7 linked regions of the Homo sapiens genome follow. The protein of the gene in region 7 interacts with the protein of the main gene of each other region in a biochemical or structural test. Each region holds a gene or a part of one and is shown on either strand. Other genes may lie near its edges.

Region 1 (4,069 bases), on a different chromosome or scaffold from region 7:
AGTATTTTCACCATATAGAAATAATAAACATAAATAGCATAGAGAGCAATAAATTTAGTAAAATAATTAGTAAGTCAGAGGTGTGGGTATTTATTATCTTTTAAAAATAGTTTTAACATCACAGTGATGTTAGTGCCAAAAATATACTTCATCCCCAAATTCTGTACTCCTACCTTACCTCTTACCTCTTTTTATTCCAAAGCAGGAATAATGGTGACATTTAAAAAACAATATCTAAAACATCATCTTCATTTTTTTTTCCTATTCTTAGCCCCTTTGGTTAAATTTCTCACTTTTGGGTCTGTATCTTCAGAGGACCACTGCCCTACACATCTGGAAATGTTTTTCTGCTCCAAGTCATAAATCTCCAATCCCAACCCATGGCTACCTACTCAAACTCTTTATTTCAAAGGACTCCTTCATCAGAAATTGGGCAGAAAAAGATCAATGAAGTGAGTACAGCTGTTTACCCAAAATGCCACAGACTGTCCATTCTACATCTACACATTTTATTTTTAAGAATAGTTAAATGGCACCATAGAGCAAATAAATAAGTAAAACGTTAATTATAAAGACTTATTTTCTGGAAATACCTATGTATTTTGAATAAAATGGATTACACCTTCTCCCTTCATCCATGTACCCTTTCATTCAGTTCACATCTATTGTACACTACAATGGACACTGGAGACACAAAAATGACAAAAACACAGTCTGTGACCTCAAGGACCTTGCCCTCTCACACGGAAGACAGACAATAGAAAAAATAATGGCAAATCCAGTGATTCTAATATCACACTACATATAAAATCCACCCATGGAAAGTGGCATAAACCAAACTAGACTAGACTGTTATGAAGATCCCAATCAGGGGCTAAGAGTTCCCTTGTATCTTATTGTCCACATGCTTTGTTGATTAGCAACAGTTTAAACATTAAGATCCCATCAAGATAAACCAAAGGAAAGATCATCTCCAACTGCTTATGAGATTTTGAAGGCATCATCCAGTGGTAACACACTGAGATGCAAGGCTTTTTGTAAAGAATTGACAAAGGTATTAGCTCCCTGCTTCCTATCTGTGGCCCTCTGCCAATGCCTCGTCTCTGCATTTGTTTCTCCCCTCCCTTTCTACGGCTTTCCTTTTCCCCATGTTTATTCCTATTCTCCTTCATCTAAATGTGCCATCTGTAAAAGCCTACTTTGAAAAAGATCACTGTTAAATTCTGAACCCTTATTTTCCTGTTCTTAATATAAAGTTCATAAGTTTATGGCCTCAGAAGTCTCTCTCTCTCTTTCTTAACAAAAGAACTGACTAAACTAAGTTATTTTTATTTCCATGTTGCTTTTGGCTGGTTTTCTTTTGTGCGTCAGAGGCTTCCAAAAGGTTCCCAACTCTAGATCCAAAAAGTTCAAAAAATGATTGAGTACAGAATAAAATATTGCCCTCATCCAGAGGGGAGCTGAGGGTCACGGGCATTAGGAGCAACGGGGGAAGCAATCCAGGATTCTGGAGCCCTAGGAAGCAAGACCTGCCATGACCCAGTCGGCCATAATGTGGGCCCTTATTTAGCAGATTAGCTCTAGTATGGTCATAACAATTATTAAAATATTGAAATGCTTCCCTCTGGAAATATTGCACATAACACCCAACCCCTTCCAAATACACCTGGCCTCCCAGACTCTCCCAGGATCCCTGGCCCAATCTCCTCACAATCAGGAGTTAAGGCCTGGCCCAGCAGAGGATCTCCAGGACCCTGCCCCAGTGCTTCTACCCTTTGACATACCCATGCTCCACCTTAATTTCGTTTTCCGAAAAATAAAGGACTTGAACAGATTGTCTGAGTTGCACTATAATTGCAATTATGTCAAAGAACAAGGACGAAATGGAAATAAAAAAACCTAAAAAAAAGTTTGTTAAGAGGATGGAATCACAGGTTATGTTTTTTTCTAGACAGACAGCAGTGTCAAAACTCTGGGTGCAAGCTGCCTGGGATGGATCCCCAGCTCTACCATGTGCTAGTTGTGGGATCTCACTATGCCTCAAACTGCCTCATCTATAAAATGGGCATAGGCCAGGCTCAGTGGCTCATGCCTGTGAATCCCAGCACGTTTGGAAGCCAAGGTAGGAGGACCACTTGAACCCAGAAGTCTGAAACTAGCCTGGGTGACATAGCAAGACCTCATCTCTACAAAATAAAATACAGTAAAACAAACATAAATAAATAAATTAAACGGCCATAATAAGATTACCTACTTTACAGGGTTGTTCTGAGGGTTAAATGTATTCATGTTTGTAAAATGCTTAGATGAGTGCAAGGCACAAAGTAAACACCACGTAAGTGTTTATTAAATAAATAATTCATTTTATTCTGTCGTTGTAATGTTTGCTCAATAAATTTAAAAATTAAGAAAGTTTCACAACAGAAAAAAAACACTGTGACACTATGAAACACTTACGTAACATACACTTTTGCTTAATAACCCAGCACTAAAACAGCTGGGGTCCAGATTTTACACTGCACTGTGAATTTAGGGAAACTAACACACTGGAATGTGTTCCCACTGAAGCATAAGATGCGATTTGTATGATTCTCTTTGTAATCAGAAATGTCACAGGCTTATGGGAAAGTTAGGTTTACATGTTTCTCATTTTAACCCTGCAACAACTTTTAGCCACACCCTAGCAAATACATTTTATTTTGTGGTGCTAAGACTTAAAGGATTGTAAACACAAAACCAGACCTTGCAGAGCTACAGCTTTTCTTGTGAACACAATGACTCAGCCTAACTACAAGTTTAAAGAGACATATCTTATGTGTTGGGTCCCCTAGTATCAATCTTTAGTAAACATCTGGGATGGACAGGAAATTGCTACACACTGCTTTTAGTTACTAAAAAGGCAACACTACCTGAGCTCAAGCATAGTTTAGATAGGTACTATTTGCACTGCTATAGAGGACAACACTGACAATTGTTATTTTTCTGATAGATACTCAGGAGAGGAAATGATCAATAACAATAATTCCCTTACGTGTTCCTTCCTCTTGACAGCTAAACCCCACAATACCCTTAGACACAAGTTTAAATACATCACAAGCTTATCCTCAAACAGTAATGTATTAGGTCTTTCCTGCTGTAGATAAGATTTGTTAAACAGTCTGGCTATGGCTTTTTACCTTTTCTCTTTTAAAAGTGCATTTCTCAGCTGGGTATGGTAGCTCATGCCTGTAATCCAGCACTTTGGGAAGCCGAAGTAGGAGGATTGCGGGAGCCCAGCTGTTCAAGACCAGCCCTAGCAACACAGTGAGACGCCATCTTTATAAAAATACAAACAAAACTGGCCAAGGATGGTGATGCGCACCTCTAGTTCCAGCTACTCAGAAACTGAGATGGGAGTATCACTTGAGCCTAGGAGGTCAAGGCTGTTGTGCCACTACACTCCAACCTGGGCAACAGAGTGAGACCCTGTCTCAAAAAAAAAAGTTTAAAAGGTGCATTTCTCTAAAGCTACGAGAAGGAACTCAAACCTTGCTTAGTGATAAAACTAAAGCCTGCAACACAACCATTATCATTAAAATGTTATTAAAACCCTGTAAGAAAGATGAAGAGTCTTGTGGATGGATGGTGGTGACGGTAGCACAACGATGTGAATGTATTTAATGCCACTACATGTACACTTAAAAATGGCTACAATGGTAAATTTTATGTTGTACATATTTTACCACAACAAAAGTGAAATTATAAGAGAAAAAAAATTTTTTAAAAAAACATCCTGTAAGAGAACATTTATACACTGTCGGTTGGAACGTAAATTAGTTCAGTCACTGTGGAAAGCAGTTGCAGATTTCTCAAAGAACTCAAAACGGAACTACCATTCAACCCAGCAGCCCCATTACTGGGTATATATCCAAAAGAAAATAAGTTGTTCTACCAAAAACACACACAAATTCATATGTTCACCACAGCACTAGTCACAATAGCAAAGACATGGAGTCAGCCTAGATGCCCATCAACTATGGACCGGATAAGAGAAAATGTGGTCCATATGCATCATAGAATACCATGCAGC
Region 2 (4,069 bases), on a different chromosome or scaffold from region 7:
TGAGGAGGTAGATACAGATTCCATGGACCAAATTTTAGGCATCGTGGCAGGCCTGCAAGGGAGGTTCAGACAACTGTGGCAAGCAGATGGGAGGGATTCATCCAACAGTGGGAATCAGGGAAGGCTTCCCAGAAGAGGGGGCAAATGGGCTGGGCCCTGTGGGAGGGACAGAATTTACAAAAAAGGAAAGGGCTTGACAGGAGTGCCCGGCAGAGCGAAGTGGCTATGTCATCACTGATCCTGAGGCTGCATTAAAGGAGGCCTTGAAGCAAGAAGAACCAGACAGACAGGCCGTCTGTGGCCCTGCAAGGCCTTCTGGGGTCCAAGGGACCCTGACATCAGAAGGTAGGGGATCTGGTGGCTGTGTTTCTATCAGGTTCCTCATACATTCCTCCACCGAGAGTGTGGAGGGTCTTTCCAAGCAGAACTGAGATCCTGGCAGGACACACACACACACACACACACACACACACACACACACACACTGCATTCTGAAGGAAACATATTGGAAAAGAGCACATGGATGTTGAAGGTGACCTGCCAGGAGCTGGGAGAGCTGCAGCCCTTGTTCCTGTCTCGGCACTTTCCTGCTGCTCTCTGATCCTCTATTCCCAGACCTCCTGTGCTCTCCCACTGTTCTGGAGAGAAAGGCCAGCTCCTCTGGGAGCCCCATCAGGCCCTTTGAGGCCCTCTGTGACATGGCCTCTGCCTGTCTCTCTCCCTCCTCCTGCATTCCTGCCATACAGACCTCCTTGCCACTTTCTACAAGTGCCTGTTTTTTCCCCCTCCTCCAGCCTTTGCACATGCTGCTCTTTCTGACCGAAACACTCCTCCCCAGATCGTGGCTGATGGTGCCCATCCGTCTATCAGATTCCGGTTGGAATTCACTTCCTCAGAGAACATTTCCCAGGCTTCCCAGGCCAGGGCAAGTCTCCCCATCTCTGTCACATGTTCTTGCATTACCTGGGGCTCTCCCTGTCTGGCACCTCGCACAGCCTGTAAATTACATATTTACTTGTATGATTCTGTGTTGATGTTTCTCTCCATCACTAGACCGAGAACTCCTTTGAGCGTTAGAACTGTGTGTTTCTCACTGTGTCCCCAGCACACAGCGTCTAGCAATTGTTGTTAAATGAATGAATGAAGTCTCCACCATCTACACTGAGTTCAATTGACTGTACCTCTAAGGAAAGGAGAAACCATGGCCAGACTCCTTACTGCTCCCCAAAGTACCCAGACAACCACTTTCCATGCCCCAGCCTTGCCCTGCAGGGCCAGCCATTGTGCCGGGGGGCAGGATGGAAGTGTGGCAGAAACCATCAGTCAGGGCCCTTTTATGGGAGTCTAGTCAGGAACATATGGGGTTCATACCAGACACTGTTTTGTTTTTGTTTTTGTTTTTTATAGGGAGCCAGTGTAGTGCTGAGAAAAGAGCCAGAACTAGGATTCCTCAGCCTGGGTTCTGATTTGGCCCCTGACTGACTATTGGAGCCTCTTTGTCTTTGGGACTTAGAAACTCCTTGGTCGGTGGCTGTCAGTAGCCTAGGGCAGTCAAATGTGACTGGGCATCAGAATCACCTGAGGGACCTTGTTTAAAAACTATAGATTTGGCCGGGCGCAGTGGTTCACACTTGTAATCCCAGCACTTTGGGAGGCAGAAGCAGGCAGATCACCTGAGGTTGGGAGTTTGAGACTAGCCTGGCCAACATGGCAAAACCCCATCTTTACTAAAAGTACAAAAATTAGCCAGGCATGGTGGCGTGCACCTGTAATCCCAGCTACCCAGGAGGCTGAGGTAGGAGAATCACTGGAACCTGGGAGGCAGAGGCTGCAGTGAGCCGAGATTGCACCACTGAACTCTAGCCTGGCCAACAGAGCAAGATTCTGTCTCAAAAAACAAAAAACAAAAAAACCTAAACCTTATAGATCCCTAGGCCCTAGCCTCAGAGATTCTGACTCCTCAGAGATTGTGGGGAGCAGCCTAGGACTTGATAAGGTTTCTAATAGCATACAGCCAGGTTAGAAATGACTGGTCTGACTACCCAAGCTCTCTGATTCTCAAGTGCTAGGCTCTGATCCTAATTCCTTCTGGCTGATTCCCAAGGGTTCTTTACAATAGTGCCTCTCCTCCCAGAAAGATCCATCCTGGGATGCACAAAACTCGATGCCTGTGACAGAGTTGTGGCCCCTTTACATTCAGACATGAAATGGCAATAACGAGCAGCTTCCTTTTAGTGAATACCTAATGAGGCAGAGGCCTTGTGCTGGGTGCTTTATAAAAATGCACTAATTCCTTTAACCTGCACGGCAGCACTGAATGGCACCATTGGCACTAAAAGACTTGGGTTAACATCAGCACAAAGAAAAAGTGTTAGGAAGTAAGATTGTTTATAGAATTGCTGGCAAGCCTGAAGACCTGGGTTCAGAAATAGACAGCAACCAGGCTAAGAGTCTAGTCACAGGATTCCCTACCTGTATTATCAAGCTATTGTGGTTGGAAAGAATGGCTCTGCTTTTTTTTTTTTTTTTTTTTTTTTTTTTTTTTTTTTTTTAATGTCTTTGGGTTTGGAATTCTGGAGAATTTGTAGCTGATTGGCTGGCGTGGACAGAGCATCTTCGTGAACAGTTCCAGCAGACTCTAACCATTGGGGAGATGTCATTCCCTAAACAGAAGTTGAGATGCTGTGACCAAAAGATAATTAAATGGATCTTAGGCATCCAAAAATTTAATAATGTCTATCACAGCTGGGTGCAGTGGCTCAATCCTATAATCCAAGCACCTTGGGAGGCTGAGGTGGGAGGATTGCTTGAACTCAGGAGTTCAAGGCTGCTGTGAGCCGTCACACCACTGCACTATAGCCTGGGGGACAGAGTGAGACCCTGTCTCAAAAAAAAAGAAAAAAAAAAGTCGGCCAGGCGCGGTGGCTCATGCCTGTAATCCCAGGCCTAGGTAGGCGGATCATTTGAGGTCAGGAGTTCGAGACCACCCTGACCAATATGGTGAAACCCCATCTCTACTAAAAATACAAAAATTAGCTGGGCATGGTGGCAGATGCCTGTAATCTCAGCTACTCCGGGGGGATGAGGCAGGAGAATTGCTTGAACCTGGGAGGCAGAGGTTGCAGTGAGCCGAGATCACGCCACTGCACTCCAGCCTGGGTGACAGAAAGAGACTCCGTCTCAAAAAAATAAAAAAAAATCTGTCACAATTATTATCCCCATCTTTCAGATGAGGAAGTTGAGGAGATCAGGATTGAACTTGCTCAAGGTTACACAGCCTAGCCAGAATTTAAACCCAGGAAAGCCCAAGGCCTGAGCCCAAGCTCTATTAACCTCTTTTTTTTGTGCTTTTTAATGTATTTTTTCTTTCCTGACTCCCAGGGCCCAGAGATGTTTCTACTGCAGAACCCAGTGCCACAAGCTTGCAGAATAAGGCCAGCACTTCTAGCCCTGAGAACAGCCTGCCTTGTGGGCCAGATGGAAGACAGCCAAGCAGGAGGGGAGGGGTGAAGAAATATGCCAAGACCCTGAGGAAAAGAAGGTCTTTCCTACAGACCGACTACACCTCTCAGGTCTCATTTCCCCTGGTGCCATCAGCCTCCCTGGAGAGTGTAGACGACGTGTGCTACTATGACAGGGAGCCCTACCTGGCCCTTGGTGCACCCTCCCCAACTGTGTCCTCTCTGCAGGACATGCAGGGTGAGCCTGGCCTTCTGGAGACCAAGGCCTTGGGGCTGCTGGCTCCTCTGAGGGAGACCAAGAGCACAAACCCAGCCTCCAGGGTCATGGAGATGGAGCCCGAGACCATGGAAACCAAATCAGTCATCGACTCTCGAGTGTCTTCTATTTCTGCCATTCGCTTCCGGATTGACCCCAACAATAAAGAGAATTCTGGTGTTGTCCCTGCTGCCAGCTCCTCAGCAAGCACTCCTCACTGTTCTAACCCAGGTTCATCTGGCCCAGATACTGCTCAGGCAAGGCCTTCCCAAATCTTACCTCTATCTCAAGACCTGGATGGGATTGCCCCCAAAGAACCAACCATAGAGCATGGAGACAGCTCCTTCTCCCT
Region 3 (4,069 bases), on a different chromosome or scaffold from region 7:
ACTTGCTTTGGCCACTGACATGTGAGCTGATGTGACATACAACATGACTGAGTGAAAGCTTTAAGAGCCATTGTATGTCTGCATCTGTTTTCTTGCTCTCTCCCTCATCCACAATAATGGCACAGCCCAGACAGGGGATGCTCCTTGAGCCAGGGTTCCAAAATAAGAAACGTGAAGCAATGCTGCAGTCAATCCACAGCTGACAAGGTGTAGCATAAGCAAGAAGAAAAGCAGTGTTGTAAGCCACTGAAATTTGATAGTGTTGCTACAGCAGCATAACCTAGCAAAAGAAGACAGATACACTTATTATGGAGTAGGTGCAAAAAATAAAATTATAGGCTGGTATATATTTTTAAATGTTTCAGAAGATAAACCAAAAAAATTAACTATTGTTACCTATGAGGAGAAGGTATGAAAACTAACAGGTGTGTAGGAATACTTTTTTTTATACCATTTTATATGATTTGAATTTTCTGTGTGTGTATGCGTGTGTGCGTTTAACCTGAGCAGCAACATCTGGGTAGTTGGATCATTTGGGCCATTTATTTTTCTTCCTTCTGCTTTTCAGTATTAAAAAATAAAAATATAATAAGGCTACCGATAATTACTTAAAAATGAATAAGAACTATTCTTATACCCTTGAAGAACTCACGTATTAGCTAACAATTTAGCTTTAAATAAAGCCTTCCCCCATTCATTGTTAATTTTTTTAACGTCCAAGGCTAAATACTGTATATATATATATATTTAGGAGTATGACATACGCCATTTCGTTTTTTTTTTTTTTTTTTTTGAGACGGAGTCTCGCTCTGTGCCCAGGCTGGAGTGCAGTGGCGCGATCTCGGCTCACTGCAAGCTCCACCTCCTGGGTTCATGCCATTCTCCTGCCTCAGCCTCCCCAGCAGCTGGGACTACAGGCACCCGCCACCACACTCGGCTAATTTTTTCTATTTTTAGCAGAGACGGGGTTTCACCGTGTTAGCCAGAATGGTCTTGATCTCCTGACCTCCTGAACCGCCCACCTCGGTCTCCCAAAGTGCTGGGATTACAGGCGTGAGCCACTACGCCCGGCCTGTTATATGCATTTCTATCAGTTTGCTCACTTTCAGGTTTCAGCAAAGCAATATAGTGTTTTGTATATGGATGGTACAGTTACTAATCTCAAAGGAAATTCTCACAATTTCATTATTTTAGTATGCCAGTTAAATTGGCAAAGAGGTTTGCTCTAGTTACAGTTGTTCAAGGGAGAGAATACAGTCATGGGTTCTTAGTTTCTGTTTCTGGATGGGCCAGTAAAGCCCCTTCCTCATCCCTCTTTCCGTTTTATCACTAGAGACAGAAACTAAAAACCATGGCTTCAGGCTGCTGAAAGCCTAAAACAAAACAAAACAGAAGAACAACAGCAAAATAAGGCAGGTTGGACAAGCTTGCTAGGTGTTAAGTTTGGTAAATATGCCTTAACCAGTACTAGAGCAAGGAATCTATTAAGGAAACTCTTCTAGGGTAAAATCATAAAGGAGCATTGAAAGAAAGGAAAAAAAGGGGAAAAATTCTAATCATGACTCTTGTGGTGATAAAACAACACTTGAATGGTTACAGAAATCAAGTTTAATAGAGTAACACTTTACTACATGAACAAGTTTTAACTTCAAGAGAGCAATATCTGAACATAGCAGTAACCTGCAAATGACTAAGAACATGTCTGTACTTTTCATCCTAAGATCTCAAAGCACTTCACAAACATTCATTTAACTCTCATATCACCTGAGAAGTAGTGATATAATAATACATCATTATAACCATCTATCCTGCCAATACAAAATATTTAAATACCTCTTCAGCAGCACTTGCCCTAAGAAGGTCTTGCTAAACAGCCAATAAAACAGGAAATAGGCTGACAGTGCATATGCCACCAACAATCTCTGAAAAGATCAGACCTTCACCCACAAGAACCACTTCCTCTCAGTAAACCACAGAGACTGTACTGGGCAAACCACAACATATCGGCTTGTGTCTGGAACATAGGCAGATAACCCATCTAAAATCTATGGAAGGGTATGTCTAAGCACCTTCACAGGATTTCTTGTGTTAGCAAGTGTATTTGGGGTATCTGTTACTCTTCTGGATAACATATAGCCACTTTCTGCATTACAAGATCAATTTCAGGTATCATTCCTTCAGAGGCTGATGAAGTCTCCAGTTTTTTTTTTTTTTTTTTTTTTTTTTTTTGAGACGGAGTCTTGCTCTGTCATCCAGGTAGGAGTGCAGTGGTGCAATCTTGGCTAACTGCAACCTCCGCCTCCCGGGTTCAAGTGATTCTCCTGTCTTAGCCTCCCGAGTAGCTGGGATTACAGGCATGTGCCACCTGGTCCGGCTCATTTTTGTATTTTTAATAGAGACAGGGTTTCACCATGCTGACCAGGCTAGTCTTGAACTCTTGACCTCAAGTGATCCGCCCACCTCAGCCTTCCAAAGTGCTGGGATTTACAGGCATGAGCCACCGCGCCTGGCCAGTTTTTCTACAACAAAATAATCTACATTTTTTTGAATCCATAAAAGATCTACAAAGTCCTCTTTGATCTTTTGAGTATATGAATGTAAAATCAACATTTATATGTAATATTTGACAAAAACTGTAGTATCAGAGTGTACCTTTAAATGACTCTAATGTGTTATATAACACCAAAAGAAAAAGCAGTGTGACAAGCAGCTAATTGAAAGCATTAACTAAAACCAGGCTCTCTTATATAGTTCCAATTTCTGCATGAATTGTTACTTGCAGTCCAAGACAGGAAACCTACTTTTCATTGGCCAGTAGATTTGCTTGTCTCTAGACACTGAGAAGCCACCCAGGCCTGTCATGTGACTGTGATCTCAAAAACCAGGACTCAGCATTTGAATTAGTAAAAGATCCTGTTTCGGTATGAATCTAAACTGCATTGGTGCATGCTAATTCAAGAGGTAAAGTTAGTGTATTTTTTCTTTTACTAAAAGTCGACACTATATACTCATGCAATTTAGGCACAGCCTCTGACCAGGCACTAGCTTCATAGGCTTCTATTGGAGTTAGAAGCTGTCTTATAGCGGTCTTCCCTATATGACTATCTTGATGATTCCAGATATTCTAAGTTGAAAAAGTAAAATGCTCTAAATTTGGCATGTTTGCAAATTTTAGTATTACCAAAATACAAAATATTAATATTAGCAAAATACAAAACAAGGACATCTATCTCAATAATTTGAAACTAAAATAGTACTAAAGAAAATATGCTAATAAAGTATTCAAAAGGTCTACAGTCTTACAGATTTTATAATAATCTAAATATGCACTTTTTCTGTTACACTGTCTTGTCATTAACAATTCTTGTAAATACAACAGCAAGAAAGTAAAATATTTCAATTTTCACAATATCCATTTTACTGAAAAAAAAAATACTGCTAAGCATTGTTATTTCACTAACATGTGGAAATAAGAGGAGACAAAACAATAAGGTAAAAATAAACCAAACATCGAGGAATGTTTTGACCTACAATTTAAGATAACGAACTGAAAAACCACTGGAAAAAATAAGAAACAACTTCCTGATGTATTTCATCATATTGCAACAAGATGATTTTCCATCAAAGGTGGCTAACATTATTTCTATACCCTACCCTTTTGTCATAGAATTGATAACATTTGTTACATTGAGGGTACTCATATTTGAAAGAATCGCTTTGTAAAAAAGCCTTTTAGAACATGAGTAATTGCTTAATTAGTTGATTTGGTAATCATGCTGTTTGTATAAATTTGTTTCATTTGACTGTGACATATCTCATATCCATCCTAAAGACTATCTAAAATAAAAGTGAATCAAAATGACCTTGAGAATCTCTTTACCCATATTTTTGCAGTAGGAGAGCAACTGAGAAAAAGCTAATGAAATATTAAGATAAGCTGATTTTTAGACAATGGATCAACAGAAAGCATACAGCTTGGCTAAGCAAAGAGTAAGGGAAGGGGACCGGAAAGGATAATGAATAACCGTCTGAAACATTTAGAATCATACAAACATAAAATGGGAGGAGA
Region 4 (4,069 bases), on a different chromosome or scaffold from region 7:
TTTACTATATCCAGCTGTCTCATAAAGAGAGTACCTAGGGCAGAAATCGGAGAGCAAGGATGCAATGGCTGAGAGATGTGAAGGAGTGGGCACTCAGAAATCACTTCCTCCAGGAAGCCTTCCCTGATACCATTTTCTGCTTCCACAGCTCTCTGTGCTTATCTCTGTCATAGCCCTGATGGTGAGATACTAAAATGATCAGTTTATGTATCAGCTGATGTTTACGAAAGAGAGCTCCTTGAGGGCAGGGAACATATTCTACGCTCTCTGAACTCAAGTCTGCCCAGTGTCTGGCATATAGCAGGTGCTTGAGAGTGCTGTTTCCTCAGACTCACCCATGTTGAGAGTGACCGTGATGATGTTGAGTGACATGGTGGAGTCCGTGATGCTGCTGAAGGACGAGGACTGGAATAGACAGAGGCCCTGAGCAGCAGGTGGAGGTGGCAGGAATTCACTCCCACCTGACTCCTCCTCAAGGTGAGTCCCCGGTGCAGCCCCCAGCCCCAAGGTTCTCAACACTGCACTAGGGGGATGGGATCTAAGGAAGAACAAGCCTTGGCCCTGCGTAGGAAGGGCTCACAATCTGCCTCCACCCATCCCTAGCCTCCCAGACCCCATACCCGCTCAATCCGAGAAACCTTCTGCTTCCGCCGCCGCCGCTTGTGTCTTCTCATCAGGCGTGAGGCACTGCTCTGTTCTGTGGAGCTGCTGAACCTGTGGGGCCCACAGTCGTTCCCCACCAGGCTGGCCCAGCCCTGCCCCCATGAGGGGAGGCACTGCAGGGCCTGGGTCCCCAACACAAAGCCCATAAGCCTCCCAGGGGCCCCGCATCCTCAGGGTTTAGGGCTCCTCCAGGGTCACCTGCCCCACAATACCCATGAAACTCAAGCCCCACCTGCTGGTGGAGTCATCCTCATCTGAGTCAAAGAAGCTGGTGGTCTCCAGCTCACTGCTCATAAGGGTGGATGAGCTATCATAACCCCCTGGTTCTCGCCGCCGTTCCCCCTTCGCAGTTCCATTTAGCCGGGTTGCTGCAGGGGATGGAAGCAGTTGGGTTTACACAGTGCCCAGTGCAGGGGTGAAGGAGGGAGAGAGGCAAGCCAGGGGCTGCACTGGGGCCAGGCATATCCTGAGCTCGGGAAGTAGGGCAAGAAGGTGGGTAGCTGGGTGGAAAGTGAGGGGAGGGTGTGAGGTGCGGACAGTGTCCGTGTTCAGGAAGATATACCATGCTCTGGGCCATCCCTCCGGCGTGGCCGCTCTCGCTGGGCAGACACCAAAGAGTCCGTCTCTGTGTCATTGTCCAGGTTCTCCTGGCTGCCCCCACCAGCATGAGGGCTGCAGGGAAGAGACTTGATGGGGGAGGGGGCAGGCTGGGGGCTCCCTCCCCCAGCCCTGGGCTGAACTGATGCGGCCCTCCCCACCCTCAGGTCACACTCACTGGAAGGATGGGGGTCGGGAGTCCCCGATGCCTCCCGTGCGCTCCATAGGTGGTGGCAGCTCCGATGGGTTATCAGCACAGAAGGGGGCTGGGTCTGGGTGTGAGCCCTCAGCTGACACCAGCTGAAAGGGAGAAACTGAGTGAGTAGTATGTTACAGGAGCATCAAGGAGAAGGGGATAGTTCACTTCCAGCAAGGCATGAAGGCCTAAGAGGAAGGAAGCAGGAAATATCGAGGGAGAAAAGACAGGGCTGTGCGAGGGTGGCTGAGATGAACAGTGGCCCCTCTGCCACTTCCTGCTATTGACGGGGTTGTTGGAAGGCATGGGGTGGTGAAGTGGAATGGGGACAAAGAACAAGGCTCAGAGGTCTAAGGCAGAGATGAGCAGATGGCAGAAGGAAATCTGAGGCAAGTGTCTGAACGGCATAGGAAACGTTACTGTCTCCACTGTGTGTTTCCGTCTCTCCCTCTTCCCCCTTCCCACTAATTTCTCACTTTTCATCAAAGGTTACAGAATCTGGGGTGAGAAGCAGTTCATTTGCAAAACTAAAGAAAGATTCAGATACTGAAGCTTAAAACCACCAGCTACAATCTCAGTGATGCCTTTCCCTCGTCCAGCCCAGCACAGGGATGCAGGTGGATGGAAGGCTGAGGGCTCCTTACCCAGGACACCACCCGGCCATTGAAGCATGGTAGCTTGGCATTGTCATCCGAGATCTCCTCCTTCACCACTCTGCAGAGAAAGGGGGATGTCACAGAGAACCTTCTAGGGTGCAAATGGAGGATCCTCAAATCCCAACTCTCAGGGGCTCCTCCATCCTAAACTGGGAATCAAACCACCAGCACAAGACTGTTCAAATGAAAGCAGAGGTTGGGGAGACCCAGAGACAGCTCTTTGGCACCACCAGGAAGACACCAGCCCTGCCTAGGCCAGATACCTTCCCGGGGCATCCTCTCAGTCATCAGGTGATTGCAAATTACAACTGACACATCACTGTCCCCCATGCCACTCCCTAAAATCTCTAAAGTGCTCTACCCATCCCCAACATGACTCTCCTGGGCTAGACTTTCTCTTTCCCTCTGATCCCTAATTGGAAAAAAGCATACAATTATAACTGTCCTTCCTTTCTTAAGTGGGAATCCTAACATTGTTGTGGGAGGTATGGACAAAGAATTTAAGAAAATTAGAAAAGAGAAGGGGAGGCCAGGCGTGATAGCTCACACCTGTAATCCCAGAACTTTGAGAGGCTGAGGCAGGCAGATCACCCTGAGGTCAGGAGTACGAGACCAGCCTGGCTAACATGGCAAAACCCCATCTCTACTAAAAATACAAAAATTAGCCGGGTGTGGTGGTGTGCACCCATCTACTTGGGTGTCTTCCCATCTCTGTACTCCTGGCATATTTGACAGTCTGAGGGTCCTCAAACTTTTCCACTCCCCTTCCTAGCCCCAAACTGTAGTTACTGCCTGACTTCTTGCCTCACCACATTCCCCCGGCCAAACTACATGCCCCGTGACCACATTCCACACCCTTCATGCCTCACATCATTGTCCTCCAGCACCCACTCTCCACATAGACCCACGTTACCTCTGTTATTATATAGGAAAGAATGTGAAATACAGTGGAAAGAGTATGGATTTTGGAGTCAAGCCTGGGGTGAAATTCCAGCTCTGACATCTACCAGTCCTGTGATCCCAGCTACTTGGGAGGCTAAGGCAGGCGAATCACTTGAATCGGGCAGGTGGAGGTTGCAGTGAGCTGAGATCACGCCACTGTGCTCCAGCCTGGGCAACAGAGTGAGACTCCGTGTCAAAAAAAAAAAAAAAAAGAAAAGAAAAAGAAAAAGAGAAGGGGAGAAGGCATTTACTGAACATTTTCCACATGCCATTATGATAATTAACAGTAATAATTGCTCTTTCTCACGCTGGTAATCTCAGCACTTTGGGAGGCCAAGGCAGGAGGATCGCTTGAGGCCAGGAGTTTTGAGACCTGCCTGGTCAACATAGCGAGGTGCCGGCTCTACAAAACAAAACAAATACAAAAATTAGCCGAGCGTGGTAGCGTATGCCTGTGGTCCCAGCTACTTGGAAGGCTGAGGTGGGACGATCGCTTGAGCCTAGGAGTTCAAGGCTGCAGTGAGCTATCATTGTGCCACTGCACTCCAGCCTGGGTGACAGAGCAAGACCCTGTCTCAAAAAAAAAAAAAAAATTGCTGTCATTTATTGAGCATAAATGAGTATTATGGGCCAAGCACTATGCTAAACACTTTACTTATATAATTTCATTTAATACAACAATGCTATAAGGCAGCAGGTACAATGGGGAAACTAGGCTCAATAGGTTCAGTAATTCTCCTAAACTGCTGAAATTTGAATCCTGGTTAGCCTGACTCTAACATCTGCATTCTTACCATTACACCACCTTATCTTCCTATAGTTAGAACCTATAATCTTCACATCAGCCTCAGTGGGCAGACTATGATCTTCATTTCATGAATAAGGAAACTGAGATGTATTCAGTTAACTTGTCCAAGGTCACAGGACTGGTAGATGTCAGAGCTGGAATTTCACCCCAGGCTTGACTCCAAAATCCATACTCTTTCCACTGTATTTCACATTCTTTCCTATATAA
Region 5 (4,069 bases), on a different chromosome or scaffold from region 7:
GCCAAGAAATTAAAAAGTAAAACTGAGAAAACTAGTGCAACAGAAGGCTGTCTTGACTGTGTTTGTGTGTGAGTGATGAGTGATGGTGAGATGGTACTGGTTATAGTTTGAGGAAAGAGTGGTGATCTTAGCTGTGAAAGGATAAGTTAGAGAAACATAGTTCAAGTTCTGCTCTTTCCTTTTCGCCATCATTAACTAAAAAAAGTCTCCTTGCAACAATAAACAGTACTAAACAGGATGTAGAACAAAGGAATCTTTTATATATTGCTGATGTAAATTTTTACAAGCAGCCTGGAAAACAACAGGATGGTTTTTAAAAAGAATGCTACTAGTAGGATAATCAATAATCCCATGACAGTCAAGTAAAATTCTTGTACATGTTCACCAGAACACACAGCAGCTCTTCCCAGGAAAATTATTCATAATACCAAAAAAAAAAAAAAAAAAAAAAGACTTAAAATAGATTTTTAAAAACCAGTACTTGCTAGTATATTTTTAAAAACCAACTTCCTACTATGCCAGATCCAGTTTATGTGCCTTTTCAGATTCTGCTAGGCCTTGGCTGCTTGCTCAGTGGAGAGTCCTGACTATTATACTACTTTCATCTTGTCTCCTGCCCTTCCCAGTTTTCTGAGCCTCTTCTGGCTGGGACTGGGCATGGCTGATGTGTTCCACACAGTGAGGGCCATAACATGTCACAAACCTATGTTTGACCTGTCATACCACTGCAACTCTACCATTTTTGGGCTTGGGTGAAGTGTTGTGCCATGGAGTATAGGAGCTGGCTTCCCTAGAAACTGCGCCCAGGGGAGTTGGGTAACACAATCCAAAAGCTTGGGACAAATAACCCCTAGGGGGTAGACAAGAGACAGGAGAATAAAAGGGCCAGCAGATAAACCTTTCTTTCTTTTCTCTGGATGGCTGGATGTAAGGTTTATGATGCCCGGATGGTTTTTACAGTGTCTGCCTAGAAGACTGTTATACATGACAAGCAACAAGCTACCTTATAAAATTACAGCCAGCTCAGACACATTCTACCTTCTATTGGCTCTCGTTCATTCTCTGCTTCACTCCTCATTTTTACTCACTCTAGCCTTCTTGAGATCACACAGCCAAATAATACCTTAGCACTTTAGCTTTTCTTCAGATTCCGTTTCCCTAAGGAACATGGACTGAGACAGTTATTGATTGATATGGTATGGCTCTGTGTCCCCACCCAAATGTCATCCTGAATTGTAATCCCCATGTGTTGGGGGAGGGACCTTGTAGGAGGTGATTAGATCACGGAGGTGGCTCCCCATGATGTTCTCTTGATAGTGAGTGAGTCTCATGAGATGTGATTGTTTTATAAGCATCTGGCATTTCCACTGCTGGCACGTCTCTCTCCTGCTGGCATGTGAAGAAGGGCGTGTTTGCTTTCCCCCACCCTCCACCATGACTGTAAGTTTCCTGAGTCTGGTGAGTCAATTAAACCGCTTTCCTTTATAAATTACCCAGTCTCGGGTAATTCTTCATAGCAGTGTGAAAACAAACTAATACACTGATGAAGACTGGACAAATAAATTGCAGTACAGACATACAGTGGAATAGTATGTAGAGATAAAATGAATGAACTTTAGCTCTAAGCAATGATATGGGTAAGTCTCAGTAAAGCAATATTGAGTGAAAAAAATACTGGAGATGAAAGTCTCATACAGTGCAATAGTGTTTTGAAAAAGCTTCAAAACAAATAATACTAAACAAAATTATTTAGGCATATGTATATAATTAAACTTTTTTTTTTTTTGAGATGGGCTTTCACTCTGTCACCCAGACTGCAGTGCAGTGGGACAATCACAGCTCACTGTAACCTCAACCTCCTGGGCTCAGGTGATCTTCTCACCTCAGCCTCCCAAGGAGCTGGGACTATAGGTGTATATCACCAGGTCTGGTTAATTTCTGTATTTTTTGTAGAGACAGGGTTTTGCCATGCTGCCCAGGCTGGTCTTAAACTCCTGGGCTCAAGCAATCTACCTACCTCAGCCTCCCAAAGTGCTAAGATTACAGACAGGTGTGAGCCACCACACCCGGCCTGATTAAACAATTTTTAAGAAGCAAAGGAATAAGAAACACAAAATGGTTGATGTTCTAATTCTTGGGCTGGGTAATTACTAGGTTTCATTATACTATTAAGTGAAGTAAAATAAAAAAGGGTCATGCATAAACAAATGATGACATTGTTTTATAAACCTAAGGATTATGATGAAACACTCTGTGCATACAAGCCCTCAACAACAACAAAGGAATAAAAGGAAAAGGGAGGAGGAGCTAGCAGAGAAAAGAGAAATGACAAATAAAGAATTACCAAGAATCATTTTTTAGGATTTGATACAGCAAGGCTAGTATTTGCTAATTTAAACATCATTTAGACCTTTTTGGTATGGAGAAATTCCAGTATCTATCAGAAAAATAAACAGACTACAAAATGATTTAAAAGACAATAGATTTCTTATACTTACTGCTAAAAGTTTATCTCCAATCTGAAGTTTGCCATCCTTATGTGCTGCACCTCCTTCAATTATTTTGGTTACATAGATGCTATTATCCCCAGGAATATGCTGATTTCCAACACCTCCAGCAATGCTAAACCCAAGACCTGTTTGGAAAACAGTTCTAGATTCTCATCCATAAATATGAACTTAAGCCCAGAAAGAAATGGTTGAAAACTACAAGGTAATTATTCCCTCACACTAATATTTTTTAAAATAGAAAAGAATCTATTTAGTTATCTACTAGTATATGTTCTGCAATCAAGGGACACTTAGACATACAGCTGCTCCTAGAGTTACGAATAGATTCCTTTTATCCCACATGTTCCTTCTTAGTATCTTTTCGCAAATGCACTTGTTATTCCAAAGTGACATTGCGAAATTATGTTTTACTTTTGTTTCCATCATAATTATGCTTACCTACACTTTTAATATTTTCACAAGAACAAAATTATTGAGAAGAAATAACAACATTGTCTGGTGATGGTGGGCAGAACCAACAGGCTTTAAAAATGTGAATACCTTTGTTCTTCTTCAATATTCTATGAATTAACAATTTTAAGTAAGGAATTTCTGTAATTCCTAAATCCCATAGCTTCAATATCAGATAATTTCTCAGCTCTCCATTCCTTTTTCATTTGTTGACATCCTCCCTCTTCCATGAAGCCACATATTGAAACTACTATTTCCATTTATCCTCAAGCCATCAATGTTTTAAAAATTCAGCAATCACATCTTAACAGTCCTTTACTGCAGATGTAACTGCTCATAATACATATTATAAACACTTCTTCTTTTAACTTAGCCTGTGTACCTGCATTTAAAGTATTTTGTAGATTATCACAAGTTAATAGCAATACTAAACTTCAAAGTGTTCAAGGACACAAATATTTCACTCTTTTAATGCTAGAAGTCTTCAATATAAGAATACTTAATACAAATAGGGACATATCCACTTATAAAACAAATAGATATTTTGTTCCCTACTTTTAAAAACTCTTAAAAACATGCTGAGCAAATATTGAATATAAAAATCATAAAAAACTTATAAATTTATATATATGCTCACTGCAGTAAAATGTATAAAAGCATACATCAATAAACGTAAGAATTTTGGGCCAGGTGCAGTGGCTCACACTTGTAATACCAGCACTCTGCGGGGCTGAGGTGGGAGAACTGCTTGAGCCCAGGAGTTTGAGACCAGCCTAGGCAATGCAGGGAGGCCTCCGTCTCTACAAAAAATAAAAAAAATCAGCCCAGTGTGGTGGTGTGTGCATGCAGTCCAAGCTACTTGGGAGGGTGAGGTGGGAGGATCGCTTGAGCTCAGGAGGCTGAGGCTGCAGTAAGCCATGACTGCACCACTGGACTCCAGCCAGGGTGACAGGGCAAAACCCTGCCTCAAAAAAACAAACAAAAAAACCCCGCAAAAAAAGGAACTTTTCAAATGCTGCAATCTTGGTAGAAATGTAAATATTCTAAAATGCTACGTAAGACAAAAATCAGTAGAAATAACGGAGAAATTAAAATCCACTCAAGTTCTG
Region 6 (4,069 bases), on a different chromosome or scaffold from region 7:
AGGCCAGGTGCAGTGGCTCATGCCTGCAATCCCAACACTTTAGGAGGCTGAGGCTGGTGGAGCACTTGAGGTCAGGAGTTCGAGGCCAGCCTGGTCAACATGGTGAAACCCCATCTCTACTAAAAATACAAAAATTAGCTGGGTGTGGTGGTGGGATCCTGTAATCCCAGCACTTTAAGAAGCTGAGGCTGGTGGACCACTTGAGGTCAGGAGTTCGAGAACAGCCTGATCAACATGGTGAAACCTCATCTGTACTAAAAATACAAAAATTAGCTGAGCATGATGGCGTGCACTTATAGTCCCAGCTACTCAGGAGGCTGAGGCAGGAGAATCGCTTGAGCCCAGGAGGCAGAGGTTGCAGTGAGCTGAGATTGTGTCACTGCACTCCAGCCTGGGCGACAGAGTGAGACTCTATCTTAAAATAATAATAATAATAATGATAATAATAAGAATAGACAGGGCACGGTGGCTCATGCCTGTAATCCCAGAACTTTGGGAGGCCGAGGCAGGTGGATCACGAGGTCAGAGTTTAAGACCAGTCTGACCAACATGGTGAAACCCTGTCTCTATTAAAAATACAAAAATTAGCTGGGCATGGTGGTGGGCATCTGTAATCCCAGCTACTCAGGAGGCTGAGGCAGGAGAATCAATTGAACCCGGGAGGCGGAGGTTCCAGTGAGCTGAGATTGTGCCACTGCACTCCAGCCTGAGCGACAGAGCAAGATTCCGTATATATATATATAATAAAATACATATAATAATGTTGAGAATAGGAAGATAATTAAACAAATCAGTAAACTGAAAACAAAATTATATCAGGCAGATAAATGACATGAGTGTAACATAAAAAATCTAGAATACATTGAACTTGTTTTTGTAAAATGGGAAAAAGACAATAAAAATAATATACTAATCACACTGTGATCTTTTACTAGTTATGAATCCATTAAGGACAGCAGTTCTGCTCATTTTTCTTTTTATTCTCAGTTTCAAGTGGGGTACTTGGAACATATTAGGAGTTCAAAGTGTTTAGTTGAATGAATATGTGACTTCAAGGCAAAATGATGTTAATAATCTCAAACTATGCTATGAGAAATGTTGCACAAGTTATACTATGGGAAATGTGTCAACAGCAGCCATAAGACCAAGGATAATCTCTACGATTATTCAGAATATACAGGTGTAATCACGCCATCCAGTACGCAAATAAAACTGATGGCTTACATCATGTCATCTTCATCCTATAGTGATAGCCTAAGTATTCAAATAGATACATTAATATTTTAGAGTAAAAAAAATTACTTATTGGGGAAGCTACCTCAGTTTGTTTTCAGCTGGCATATTGATAAGCAACACACATTTTTTACTCTTAAATTTCTGCAATTAGTTTGAAGTAGTGCCTGGGTCAACATTTGAATACTACTGTACTGTATTAACAATTGTCCCCAAGCTTCCCAAACTGGATATATTCTTAATGGAAAAACATTTTATTTATTCCCTCTGCTTCATTTGAGATGATCATTTGCTCTAAAAAATTACCATGATAGAGATGATGGATTAAACCCTTTGATTTTGTTTTCATCTTCATTTATGGTTACACATTAAAAAAAGAACAAGCAACATATCAAATGATGTAGTTCAAATTGTTGGCCCTACCTGCTCCACCTCATTGGCAGTGGGCTGCATTGCTTCATTATGCTCTTCTTCCAACATCTCCAAGTTTAACTCCTCTAAGAATTCATTCCTTTCATCTTCCAGCCAGCCTTCATCCAGCTGCAAAAGAATACATTAGTACATTATATTATGTTAGTGAGAACTCATGTTAAAATAGAGTAAACTTAAATGGCCGGTGCCCGACGAGTTCCTTTTATCATAATGATTCTCTTCAGAATACCAGCCTCCCACAGTTCACCTCTCAGAAAGAAGAAAAGGTGATAAAAAAAAAAAAAAAGGACTCTTATGCCTTTTATCCTTTCCTGAAATGGGACTACAGATTTTCTCTCATAACCAAGTAAATCTCACAGCACAGAATATTACCTTCTTTCAAAATGTATGAAAAGCATCCTGCATAATCCACAGCTGTCATGCTCATTACCTCCAACAGTCCCGTGTTAAAAGGACTGCCATGCTACTAATTGGGCTATGAGACAATTGGGCTGTTTTCTTTAACAACAACCCCCAACGAGACTGCACACAAAGTTCCCCCCATACGCTCGTGCTATCCTCATCCTGCTTTTTTCTTTTTAGGTGGGCTCCCATGTCAACAAGATGGCTGCTTGCCACAAAAGAATGTACAGAAGACATTTATTTTGTCTGTGAAGAAAGGAAAATTCTAAGTTATTCTTCTCAAGGAAAGGAAAGAAAAGCAATATTACTCCATGTCTATTTTAATTTGTTTTCAGGCCCAATTTTATAGGAAAAACACCTCAGTGGATGCGACATTTAAGGGTGGTGGAGTGGTGTGGGGCATGCAGGGTTTTGTTTATGGGTGTTGAAAACAAGTATTCTTGTAGGACTCTTAATGCAAATTGAACTGAACAAATCCCTTCGGCTTTTCAATACAAAGTGAAGTGGAAAACTGGTGGTTACCTGGCTAATATGATCTAATATGATCAGTGTTGACAGTTACTACAGATAATTTGCCTCAAAGTGGATTTTTGGAGCTGGATTACATAAATTAGCTGTCTATGCTGATTAAATTAACTGGATTATCGTCAAAACTCTGCATCACCCTGTACAAAGAAATAGCATTCTAGTGAGCAAACATGGATAATAGTTTGAGATATTTTCACCACCAATGAACTGGCAAAATAAGCTTTTAAACATAACTGAACTTCTACAACTTAAAAACAAACTGGAAAGGACATTCAGCTGCACCAAAAGAGGCATTAGCATACAGGTATCATCTTTATTAATATGCAGGCAAATCATAGATTTCATGATATCTATTAAAGGCCATGTAGAACTTAAATGACCTCAAACTTAACTGGGGCCCAAAGTGCTGGCACATTTGTTCATCCTCATTTATCTTAATGTCGCCTGAATAATTTGATCAAATTCCTGTGACTTTGATATGCAGATGAGCTATGAAAATTATGCCAAGTAAAAATGTAAATTCAGCCCAATTTATAATTGTTCAAATTTTACATTCTTTAATCTTTTTCAAGTATCATAAAGCTACAAATGCCAGACATCATAAAAAATTACTTAAAATGGGGAGTGCTTACTATTCACAAACACATCAAGGAATTTTTCTTTAATCAGGTCAAAATAAAGTATTTTCTAACACTGATATATTGAATGATGAAACAGAGTCCTTTGAGGATTAAATGAAGTAGTGGGGAAAATAAAGAGAAAATGGTCAAAATTAATGATTCCCCATAACTCTTTTCTTATTGAGTAATCCAGTAGATTCCTGAGTTGCCAGCCATAGTCATTATATGTCTATTTTGATAAGGCTTTCTTTTAGGCTGGAGGTGCACACAGCACAATTAGCAAAGGGAGATTCTTCTTGCTCACTTCCTTCTTCTCTCCTATTTCCCCCTTTCTACCTAGATGTACATTCACTATGGTCTGAGTCTAATGTAACGGCAGAGACAGACATCTCCCTTGAGCTGAGCTGCAGGAAAAGAGGGATTGTTACTACTAAGAGTGGGGATCTATCTGCACCAAAGGGGGCCACATGTGGCATCTCAGAAAAAGGAACAACCTACACTGTCTCAAAGGTAGTGGCTACAAGTTCTTATGAGAATCCTCTCTGCCCCAGTGTCCTGAGGGAAATAGGACAGAAAAGCAATATCTTTAATGGTCTCAGGAAGAAAATGGGCAGAAAATGAAAGAGAGTTGACAGGAAATGAGGAAAATGAGTTATTTAAAAATATTGCACAGATGTACAATACTGCCCCCAGCAACTCTGTAGATCATTTCCAAGAATCTAGAGAGTATTTGAAACGTTAAAAATGTTTAAAAAAAGCTAGAAAAAGCACACAAAAGCTTCCACATTCTCCCCGAATAAAATACACACGCAAAAAAAAAACATACAACAATGAGATAAATTGAGTTCAATGGA
Region 7 (4,069 bases):
TGAATAATACAAACAGATCCCCGGTTGGGGGATAATCCTGGTGCCCTCAGTTTTGTTCTATTCTGGGATGTCTGGCTCATTTTGACAGTTATCGATAAACTCCTCTCCTACCCGATGCTTGTAATTAAAACTGCTCTTTCACCTAGTGTTTCCATTTTCATGTACAGTGACTCCATTCATTTACTTACCTAGGCTGAAAACCCCGTAGTCATTCTTGACTCTTCTTACTCTCCACTCATTAGCAAATCATGTTGGTTTTCTGCCTTCAGAATACACCCCACTTTGCTACTCTGGGCTCAGCCTCTTTGGTTTCTTGCCCGGAAACTTTAATAGCTAACTTAGTCTTCTCTTTTCACTCTTTGCTTCCTGCAGTCTAGTACAGTGGTTAATTCCATGGGTTCTGGAACCAGATTCCCTGTCATGTGACTTTGCGAATACTAATTAGCCTTTCTAAACCTCAGTTTAGAGGAATGAGGATGAGAACAGTGATACTGTTTACCTCACATGGTTGTGTCAGACAACTTGTTATGCACAAATTACTTAGATAGGACATGGCAAACAGTAAATGTCCCATAAATGTTAGGTGGTAAGAGATATTGAGGTTGTTGTGGTTGTTTTTATTCATACAGACTTGAAACTGATATTCTCAAAACATTAGTCAGATACATTCTCTGTTGGCTTCCTGGCCCTTCTTAGCACAATATCCAAAGGCCTTCCTGTGGCTTACCAAGCCCTGCAGCTCTAGGTTACCTGGTTCCTCTCTGATCACATTGGCCCGTGCTCGCTGTGTTCCAGCCACACTGGCCTGCTGCTCTTTCCTGCCTTGTTCAGCCTTTGAGCACTCATTTTCCCTCTGCCACATTGCTCTCTCTTCAGAGATTTGCCCAACTTGCCGCTCCCTTCATTTAAGTCTAAACCCAAATGTCAACCACTGTTCAAGAATATCATGTCATCTTTCTCTATATACCTAATTTTTTTCATATCTTAAGAAAATACAACTTTTCACTACCTAACATTACATTATATATCTGTTTATTGGCTAATTATGCTGTTAGACCAGATTTCATAGTACAATAGTCCCCTCTTATCTGAGGGCAATACCTTCCGAGACCAAGTGGATGCCTGAAACTGTGGATAGTACCAAATCCTAATATACTATATTTTTTCCTGTACATACATACCTATAATAAAGCTTAATTTATAAAGTAAGAGATTAACAACAACAGTAAAATAGGACAATTATAACAGTATGCCAGCATCGCTACTCTTGCACTTTGGAGCTGTTATTAAATAAAATAAGGTTTCCTTGAACACAAGTACCACGACGATTGCTCTGATGACCTAGAAGGCTACTAAATGACTAATGGGTGGATAGCATCTACAGTGTGGATATGCTGGACAAAGGGATGATTCATCCCAGGCAAAACGGGGCAGGACTGCAAGGTATTTCAGTGCACTACTCAGAATGGTGTGCAATTTATAAACTGTTTATTTCTGGAATTTTCTATTAAATTTTTTGGACTAAGTTGACCAAAGGTAACTGAAATCACAGAAAGCAAAACTTCTTATAAGGAGGGACTATGTAAATGAGTGCAAGGGACCTTTTCTCTTTGGTTCATCGTTTTAGCCCCAGTGCCTTTCATATACATAGTCGATGTTCAAGAGGTATTTGTTAAATGGATATATGGGATGTGATGGGGTGAGTGACTGACAAATATTTTCCCCTTCCTTCTTTACACAAGAGATGCTGAAGTTACCAGATAGTTGGAAAGGCCCAAATTAACTTTTTTGAGATGTAGAGTTCAGGTTTCCCCCTTCTTTCCCATGAATAACAATATATTGTGTAATTCATCATAATTACTTCAGTTAACCACAAATGGAGTAATTGCATTGTTAAATTAGTACCCTCTTACAGTTACTATTCAAGGTAAACTTCTTTCCTGGGTAGCTAGTGACAAGAAAATCATTTGGGCTCATCATTTATTGAGCACTTAAACCCACTAAGCCCATGCCACACTCCTGGTTGTTACCAACCTCCAGTGCTGAAAGAAGGAACTTGTTAAGTCTGTCTGGAATCAGGAAAAACAGAGACATATATAATGTTCTCCAAAAATTCTGCTGCTTATAAAGAGCAGTGAATTCAGAGTGTCTAGGGAAACAGGATTTTTAAATAAGGATTTAGGTTTAAGATGCCTCTTAGTTTCTTAGGGATGGGAAGTGAGTTTTAAAAATTAGCATTTTTCTTTTAATATGATAGTAGAACAATTCGGTTACTGTTTGATAACTTTATACTAATTCATTGACTTTATTATATGAAGAAATAAAGGACTTCAAGAATAGCTCATAACAAACCGGGTGGCGTGGTGGCTCAAGCCTGTAATTCCAGCACTTTGGGAGGCTGAGGCAGGAGGATCACTTGAGGTCAGGAGTTTAAGACCAGCTTGGCCAACATGGTGAAACCCTGTATCTACTAAAAATACAAAAATTAGCCGGGCCTGGCAGCATGCACCTGTAATCCCAGCTACTCGGGAGGCCGAGGCAGGAGAATCGCTTGAACCTGGAAGGTGGAGGCAGTGAGCTGAGATCGTGCCACTGCACTCTAGCCTGGTCAACAGAGCAAGACTCTGTAAAAAAACAAACAAAAACAAGAATAGCTCATAACCTTGAACGTCTTTGTTTGTTTTCTTCATAATTCCTGAGAATTTTTTAAAAAATACCATTACCAATTTCAGTTAATTATCATGTACACCTAGAATATGGAAGTTATTTTGTGCTTTTTATTTTGGGCCTCTTTTCTACCTTTAAGCTTAACATCCAACAGTCTTCTGAACCATATCTTGTTATAATCTGAGCAAATAATTTTCTTTCTGATTGAAAGAGGGTAAACATAAGCTAATTTGTTTAGTCCTTTTTTTAAAAAAAAATCACTGACACTAAATGAGTTAATGTTTGGAGTTTAGTTGACCTCCTAAATTATCCCTATTACAACATAGTAAGACACCATATCTACAAAAAATACAAAAATTAACCAGCCTGGTGACACGTGCTTATAGTCCTAGCTACTTAGGAGGCTGAGGTGGGAGAATCACCTGAGCCCAGGAGGTTGAGGCCGCAGTGAGCCATGATTGCATCACTGCACTCGAACCTGAGCAACAGAGCCAGACCCTGTCTCAAAAAAAAAAAAAATTGGTACCATTCAGAGACAGTGTCAGATGGGGTGTTGACTGGGTTGGTTCACCTATCAGATGGTAAAGTAGGTGTTCTGAGGTGAGCTCAAGGAAGATTGAAATCTCCCATGGAGCAGGACAAAAACGTACTTGATCTTGATTATCTGTATTTATAAAGATTGTCAAAGTAGGACCAAGAAATTTTTCTGATCTTTGGAGTTATCACTGTGAAGCAGAATTCACCAGTCCTTGTTCATCAACCTATCTTGTGTTCCCTATAAATGTTAATGTAGAATAGCCTTATCTTATCTACAAAATATTATTTTTATTAGAAGAATCTAAGTGTAAATCAGTAGCCAAAAATCAGAGATCTGATTTATTAGCTGTTCTCTCTTTTTATTTATACATGGACTTTAATAATCATTATTATCATTATTACAGGCCATGGTTGCTTGTTATCCGGGCAATGGAACGGGTTATGTACGTCATGTTGATAATCCAAATGGAGATGGAAGATGTGTGACATGTATATATTATCTTAATAAAGACTGGGATGCCAAGGTATGCAACTTAATTGAGCATTTATTTTTTTCTTACAGGTGTCTTTTTCTCAAAAGCATTAAGTTTCATACTTCTGATAAGACTGTCACAGACACAGTTAAAAATTTTCCTCTTAAATTTGTTTCAGTCTCAGGTATTAGGAGTGGATTTTTGTAAAATGAAACAAATACTACTCTATGTTATACAACATGATACCTGTAGTTAACAACGTAGTGTTGTGCACTTAAAAATTTAAGAGGGTAGACTCCATGTTCAGTGTTCTAAACACACACACATACACACACACACACACACACACACACGCACACACGAGGTTAGGGGAAGGGAAACGGAACTTTGAG

Evidence for each region.
Region 1: the proteins of EGLN1 (region 7) and PLD1 form a complex in vitro, tested with the Homo sapiens proteins (one study listed by BioGRID).
Region 2: the proteins of EGLN1 (region 7) and FRMPD1 interact in a test that uses a peptide from one of them, tested with the Homo sapiens proteins (one large-scale study listed by IntAct).
Region 3: the proteins of EGLN1 (region 7) and ARHGEF12 interact in a test that uses a peptide from one of them, tested with the Homo sapiens proteins (one large-scale study listed by IntAct).
Region 4: the proteins of EGLN1 (region 7) and DVL3 interact in a test that uses a peptide from one of them, tested with the Homo sapiens proteins (one large-scale study listed by IntAct).
Region 5: the proteins of EGLN1 (region 7) and DLG1 interact in a test that uses a peptide from one of them, tested with the Homo sapiens proteins (one large-scale study listed by IntAct).
Region 6: the proteins of EGLN1 (region 7) and PDZRN4 interact in a test that uses a peptide from one of them, tested with the Homo sapiens proteins (one large-scale study listed by IntAct).

The regions. Positions count from the first base shown.
Region 1 is NC_000003.12:171,803,823-171,807,891, forward strand, and holds part of PLD1 (phospholipase D1), read right to left. Parts: intron 1-4,069. UniProt on the Homo sapiens protein: Function as phospholipase selective for phosphatidylcholine. Implicated as a critical step in numerous cellular pathways, including signal transduction, membrane trafficking, and the regulation of mitosis.
Region 2 is NC_000009.12:37,741,008-37,745,076, forward strand, and holds part of FRMPD1 (FERM and PDZ domain-containing protein 1), read left to right. Parts: exon of another isoform or gene 1-345; intron 346-3,381; coding exon 3,382-4,069. UniProt on the Homo sapiens protein: Stabilizes membrane-bound GPSM1, and thereby promotes its interaction with GNAI1.
Region 3 is NC_000011.10:120,342,426-120,346,494, reverse strand, and holds part of ARHGEF12 (rho guanine nucleotide exchange factor 12), read right to left. Parts: intron 1-4,069. UniProt on the Homo sapiens protein: May play a role in the regulation of RhoA GTPase by guanine nucleotide-binding alpha-12 (GNA12) and alpha-13 (GNA13). Acts as guanine nucleotide exchange factor (GEF) for RhoA GTPase and may act as GTPase-activating protein (GAP) for GNA12 and GNA13.
Region 4 is NC_000003.12:184,161,758-184,165,826, reverse strand, and holds part of DVL3 (segment polarity protein dishevelled homolog DVL-3), read right to left. Parts: intron 2,171-4,069; coding exon 2,101-2,170; intron 1,561-2,100; coding exon 1,439-1,560; intron 1,336-1,438; coding exon 1,226-1,335; intron 1,032-1,225; coding exon 896-1,031; intron 715-895; coding exon 621-714; intron 406-620; coding exon 336-405; intron 1-335. UniProt on the Homo sapiens protein: Involved in the signal transduction pathway mediated by multiple Wnt genes.
Region 5 is NC_000003.12:197,134,044-197,138,112, forward strand, and holds part of DLG1 (disks large homolog 1), read right to left. Parts: intron 2,636-4,069; coding exon 2,499-2,635; intron 1-2,498. UniProt on the Homo sapiens protein: Essential multidomain scaffolding protein required for normal development. Recruits channels, receptors and signaling molecules to discrete plasma membrane domains in polarized cells.
Region 6 is NC_000012.12:41,565,487-41,569,555, reverse strand, and holds part of PDZRN4 (PDZ domain-containing RING finger protein 4), read right to left. Parts: intron 3,726-4,069; exon of another isoform or gene 3,250-3,725; intron 1,774-3,249; coding exon 1,657-1,773; intron 1-1,656.
Region 7 is NC_000001.11:231,373,639-231,377,707, reverse strand, and holds part of EGLN1 (egl nine homolog 1), read left to right. Parts: intron 1-3,608; coding exon 3,609-3,728; intron 3,729-4,069. UniProt on the Homo sapiens protein: Cellular oxygen sensor that catalyzes, under normoxic conditions, the post-translational formation of 4-hydroxyproline in hypoxia-inducible factor (HIF) alpha proteins.